2 separate regions of the Homo sapiens genome follow, and region 1 is linked to region 2. Evidence: fine-mapped expression QTL. A gene starts in region 2. The other region holds a variant in brackets. All regions are shown on one strand. Distances are from middle to middle.

The links. PIP is the estimated chance that this variant, and not a neighbour inherited with it, causes the effect.
Region 1: its variant is the best candidate, but not a certain one, in a credible set for the expression of ZNF805 in whole blood (TOPMed, PIP 0.85).

What each region holds. Positions count from the first base shown.
Region 1 is chr19:57,268,228-57,271,139 of GRCh38, reverse strand. The region is part of intron 2 of ZNF460-AS1 (ZNF460 antisense RNA 1); the gene reads left to right. Among named protein-coding and RNA genes, the nearest start is that of ZNF460-AS1, 11 kb to the left of the region's middle. The variant C/G (reference allele first, on the strand shown) is at 1,525.
Region 2 is chr19:57,239,335-57,242,246 of GRCh38, reverse strand. It overlaps ZNF805 (zinc finger protein 805), which reads right to left and starts at 1,615. Exons shown (of 4, transcript NM_001023563.4): 1 at 1,326-1,615. The coding sequence starts at 1,355. RefSeq lists a silencer at 1,318-1,387 and enhancers at 1,508-1,777, 1,798-2,017.

The DNA.
Region 1 (2,912 bases), 29 kb before region 2:
TCTTTAGGACATTCATAACCATTTGAAAATATATTTTTATATATTTACTAACTTTTAATTAATTAACTCAACAAGTACTTGACTATCTTGTGATAGGCTCTGCTCTAAACAGTGGAGATACAGAGCTGGGCCTGGTGGGTTTGTTCCTGTAGTCCTAGCTACTCAGGACACTGAAACAGGAGGATCGCTTGAGACCAGGAGTTTGAGACCAGCCTGGGCTATCTAGCGAAACCCTGTTTCTAAACAAAAAAACAAAAAGTCACAATGGAGACACATACATACCACACACACACACACACACACACACACACAAAATAATAATAATCCAAAACTCCTAAACAATATAGAAGGTTAGGAGTGTTGCGGAGATAAGACAAACTAGAGCAGATTAAGAATCAGTGAGAGTGGGATAAAGCCAGTTGTGCAATACAGAGTGGTTGGGACAGGTCTAATAGGACAGTTAGGCCGGGCGTGGTGGCTCATGCCTGTAATCCCAGCACTTTGGGAGGCTGAGGCAGGCAGATCATGAGGTCGGGAGATCGAGACCATCCTGGCTAACATGGTGAAACCCCGTCTCTACTAAAAATACAAAAAATTAGCTGGCCGTGGTGGTGGGCCCCTGTAGTCCCAGCTACTAGGGAGGCTGAGGCAGGAGAATCATTTGAACCCGGGAGGCAGAGGTTGCAGTGAGCCGAGATCACGCCACTGCTCTCCAGCCTGGGCGACAGAGCAAGACTTCGTCTCAAAAGAAAAAAAAAAAGTGATGTTTTAGCATGGACTTGGAGGAATTAAAGACTCATCAAGTGGAGATCTCAGGAAACAGTGTTATCACTCAGAGAAAACACACAGGACAATGGAACTGACAGAGCATCCTGGGTGTTTGTGGAACACCAAGAAGCCTAGTGCGGCTGGAACTGAATGTGCATGGAAGTTGGAGAGATAGATGGAAACAAATTGTGTAGTCTTTTATGCCAGCGTAGAGAGGTTGTAATATGTTCCTGTGTGTTCAAAAATGTACCTGGGGTTTTTTGCAGTATGGTCTGATAAGAAACTCGGACATGCAAATGATTGCCAGGAAGGAAGAACTTTCAACTCACGGAGTTTTAGAAACAGTAGGCAAAACACATCCTGCAGGGCTATGTGAGAAGCACCAGGGTGGTATAAGAAGCAGAAGCAGAGGAGAAAGCAGAGGCCAGATCCTTTATTGTTTTCCACAGGAAAAGAAAGGCAGGGCTGGGTAACCAGAAGAGGATTTGCTGGTTTGAATAAAGTTGGTAGACTTTGGGGTCTAGGAGCTGTCCCTGTCTGCCTAGTACCTGGCCCTGGAGTCATTAGAGCAAAAAAAAAAAAAAAAAAAAAAAATTGTCTCCTGTAGTGTAAGAGCCAGACAGAGGAGATGATTCACATTAGGGTACTCTGGATTTGTTAGTATGCAAATAAAAGGCATGGTTCAGAGTGAGTCATTTGCAATCTCTAAGAATCAGTTAACTCTAAATGGCAAGGTCCCAAATTCCATAGCATCAA[C/G]AATGCAGAAAATAAGAAAATATAGCTAATACACTGTGAAATGGGTAGCCATCATGGGGTTTTGAGCAGAGCTGTGATGTTATCTGATTTATGTTTTTGTTTGTTTTTTGAGACGGAGTCTTGCCCTGTCGCCAGGCTGGAGTGTGATGGCGTGATCTCGGCTCACTGCAACCTTCTCCTCCTGAGTTCAAGCGATTCTCCCACCTCAGCCTCTGGAGTAGCTGGGATTAGAGGCATGTGCCACCATGCCCGGGTAATTTTTTGTATTTTTAGTAGAGACAGGGTTTCACCGTGTTAGCCAGGATGGTCTCGATCTCCTGACCTCGTGATCCACCCGCCTCAGCCTCCCAAAGTGCTGGGATTACAGGCGTGAGCCACTGTGCCTGGACTGATTTATGTTTTAAAAGGATCACTCTGGGTAGTCTATGGAAATTGGAATATGGGAGGGGCAAGAGGGAGAAGTCCTGTTAGGGAGCTCTGGCTCTTTCCAGATGTGCAAGGTGGAGGATAACTTAAGCCAATGTAGTGAGAGGGGAGGTGGTTTACCACAAAGTACAATTAACAGTAGATCAAGGAGAACAATGAGTAATTGAATTGATACAAATATATGGAAAAGTATGAATGGCTTTATGGGATGGATTGTTGTTTCTAAATCTATCCATTCCCCACACGAGCTGCTCCAGTGGCTCAGCATGTTCATGATGATACTGCTGATATATCTTATATAAATGTTATACTAAATGTAGATGCTCAGTAAATATGATTGTTTTGCTGTAAGAGATTCTAGGCTAGGGCCAGGGCTTTGGTTATACACGAAAGTGTGAACTCATCAGGCTTCAGTTGCTCAGATGCTATACATTCTAAAGAAAGAAATGGCCCTTGATCAGCTCCAGGAAGACAATCTCTGAGTTTCTGGAATATTTTGCCTGGTAAAAGTAATTTTTAAGCCTGAGTCCATAGGCCTTCATGTATCGATTTGATGAGATAATTTATTCTAAGAACATTGTTACTGAAAAGGGGTCCCAATCCAGACCTCAAGAGGGTTCTTGGATCTTCCACAAAAAAGAATTCGGGGTGAGTCCATAATGAAAGCAAGTTTATTAAGAAAGTAAAGGGGCCAGGCGCGGTGGCTCACGCCTGTAATCCTAGCACTTTGGGAGGCCGAGGAGGGTGGATCACCTGAGGTCAGGAGTTTGAGACCAGCCAGGCCATCATGGCAAAACCCCATCTCTACTAAAAACACAAAAATTAGCCGGGCGTGGTGGCACATGCCTGTAATCCCAGCCACTCGAGAGGCTGAGGCAGGAGAATCGCTTGAACCCGGGAAGCAGAGGTTGCAGTGAGCCAAGATCATGCCATTACACTCCAGCCTGGGCAACAGAGCAAGA
Region 2 (2,912 bases):
GCCAACTGTCTGTAAAAACAAAGGCTCTGGTGGTCCACACGCTAAATATGAGTTTGTTACTTAAGTGCTATGTGACTTTCAGCAGGTAACTAAACAGGTCGGAGTCTTGACCTCCTCTTGTGTACAGCAGTGTTTATAATAGAATGTCACTTTAAGGAGATCAGGATTAAATGAGATGATAAATAATGCCCATTTCTCAGTTCACATCAAGGACTCAATGAAGGCCAACCGTTACAGTTCTTGTGTTATTATTTATGCTCTTTGTCCCCACAAAATCCTTTAAGACCTCAACTCAGTAGGTGTCTAAAACTTTGCCAGATTCTCTATACAAAAACGCTAGACCAAGGGCAGGTGAGAAGGGGACTACTTTAGTCTGAACTGCCATGAAAGGCCGCTTTAAAGAAGTGACATTTGAGCAGAGCCAACAAGATGTGAAAGGGTCTTGCAGAGATCTGAGGATAGTGTCTGAGGCTGAATGAACTGTAAAGGTGAAGGCTGAGGGGTAGGAAAGAACTCTGCGTGATCAGATTGATATGTCTGAAGGGCTGAGCCAGGGAGGAAAGGAAGGAAACAAGGACAGAGGTGGTCAGCCATAGTGGACCTGTGTCTGAAGCGCTGAGCCAGGGAGGAAAGGAAGGAAACAAGGACAGAGGTGGTCAGCCATAGTGGACCGGGTAGGGACTTGCAGGCCAAGGCTGAGTTCGGATGATGTGTGTGACGGGAGTCCCTGGAGTGGAACTTCATCCATCCTTCAAGCAATTATTAAGCAGCTTTCAGAGGCCTGACACTTTAGCAGTGGAAAGCTGCAGAAGGGCTAACTAGAAGTGGGGCATCGTATGTGATTGGTTAGGCTGAGCACGTATGGCTTTCTCTGCTTGGTCCTCTTTTGGAGGCGGAGGCAAAAATTAGAACAGTCAGTTACAAATCAAGTCCTATTTGGGGCCTACTGTTCCAGGAGTTACCGTTTAGCCTCCTGAAATGTCACCAGAGAGTAATCTAGCTCCTTGCAAGACTAACTTAAGGCAGACTGGCTTCCAGAGTAGTTTATTGCAGAACAGGAGGCTGGTTTCCTGGGCAGGTTGCTACAAAAAAATTGTACGTCACAGCCCTATAATCGATGTATAGTCTGCCTACTGTCCGCTTCAATATTCAGTCTCTCAGGTACTACCACGACAGGAGATAAACTAAGTGACGAGCCTGCTCCACGTTTCGTAAACAAACAAAACTACAAAGAGGAATCCTGTGGCTGTCTTGGCTTCCGGCCTGCCCAGGAGGCTTCCCCGAACTAGCAGAAAAGCAGCAAGGCCGAAACCTTGTCCACTCACCTGCGCCGGGTCCGTCAAAGCCATCGCCATACCGGGACCCTGTGGCCCTAGCGGGGCGGGGGCTGCGGCGAGCAGGGCGGGTCTCGCGGGCTCAGCCGAGCCCCACCCCTTCCCTGCGCCGGGCCCGGTGACCTTGGCTGACAGTCAAACTCTCTCGTTACGGGGAGGCTCACGGTTCGCTCCGAGACGCGGAGGTCGCTGTCGGCCTCCTACCTGCTCATTTCCCCAGCGCCGCCAGGGAGGCGGCCACGGAACACCGCCCCCTCCCTAGAGCCGGCGTGGACGGAACCGTCGCTCCCAAATTACGTCCCATCCAAATGCCGGAAGTCCCGCCCCAAGCTTCGCAACCCACAGGAAACGCCCCTGTCCTGGACCATCATTGGCCCCAGGGCCCGCCGTCGCACCTGGCAATGCCTTGTAGTTAATGTAGTTTTTCTCTACAAACCACCTGCAAAGGGGACAGATCCTGAGCCGGCAGGCCTCGGTGTAAAAGTCGCAGCGGGCCTACAGCCCGGCTCAGACCTGCCTCTGTCCTGGGGGCACAACTCGGAGGCCAGGGACCAAGCGCGAGACCGTCCATTCTTGGCCGGAGGAAATCGAGCCCCAGGAGTCAGGGACATTTGCCAGGGTCAGGGCCAGTGCAGAGACCCTGGACCAGGCTCCGGACTCTGACTTCCACCTTGCATTATTTCCCCTCCGGATCCTCTTATACAGATCAGCGGGCAGTCAGAGTAACCAAAGGGGGACGTCGGGCGGCGCGATGCCTCAGGCCTGGGATCCCAGCGCATTGGGAGGCCAAGGGGGGCGGATCGCTTGAGCCCAGGAGCTCAAGACCAGCTTGAGCAACATAGGGAGACTACCAAAAAAAAAAAAAATTTTTTTAAAATAAGCTGAGTGTGCTGGCGCACACCTGTGGTCCCAGAAGTCTGTGGCAGGAGGATCGCTTGAGGACAGGAGTTTGAGAACAGTCTGGGCGACAGAGCGAGACCTCATTGGTACCAAAAAAAAAAAAAAAAGAAAAAGAAAAGAAAAAAAATAGAGCGCGGTGGCTCACGCCTGTAATCCCAGCACTTTGGGAGGCCGAGGCGGGTAGATCACGAGATCAGGAGATCGAGACCATCCTGGCTAACACGATGAAACCCCGTCTTTACTAAAAATGCAAAAAATTAGCCGGGCGTGGTGGCTGGCGCCTGTAGTCCCAGCTACTCGGGAGGCTGAGGCAGGAGAATGATGTGAACCCGGGAGGCGGAACTTGCAGTGAGCCGAGATCGCGCCACTGCACTCCAGCCTGGGCGACAGAGTGAGACTCCGTCTCTCTCTCTCTCTCTCTCTCTACTTATATATACATATATTTATATATACATATATACATATATACGTATATATACATATGTATATATACGTATATATATGCACATATATATTTATATATATATTTATATATATATTTTTTGAGACAGGGTCTCGCTCTGTTGCTCAGGCCATAGTGCAGTGGCGCGATCACAGCTCACTGCAGCCTCAAACTCCAGGGTTCAAGTGATCCTCCCACCTCAGCCACCCAAGTAGCTGGGACTGCAGGCACGCACC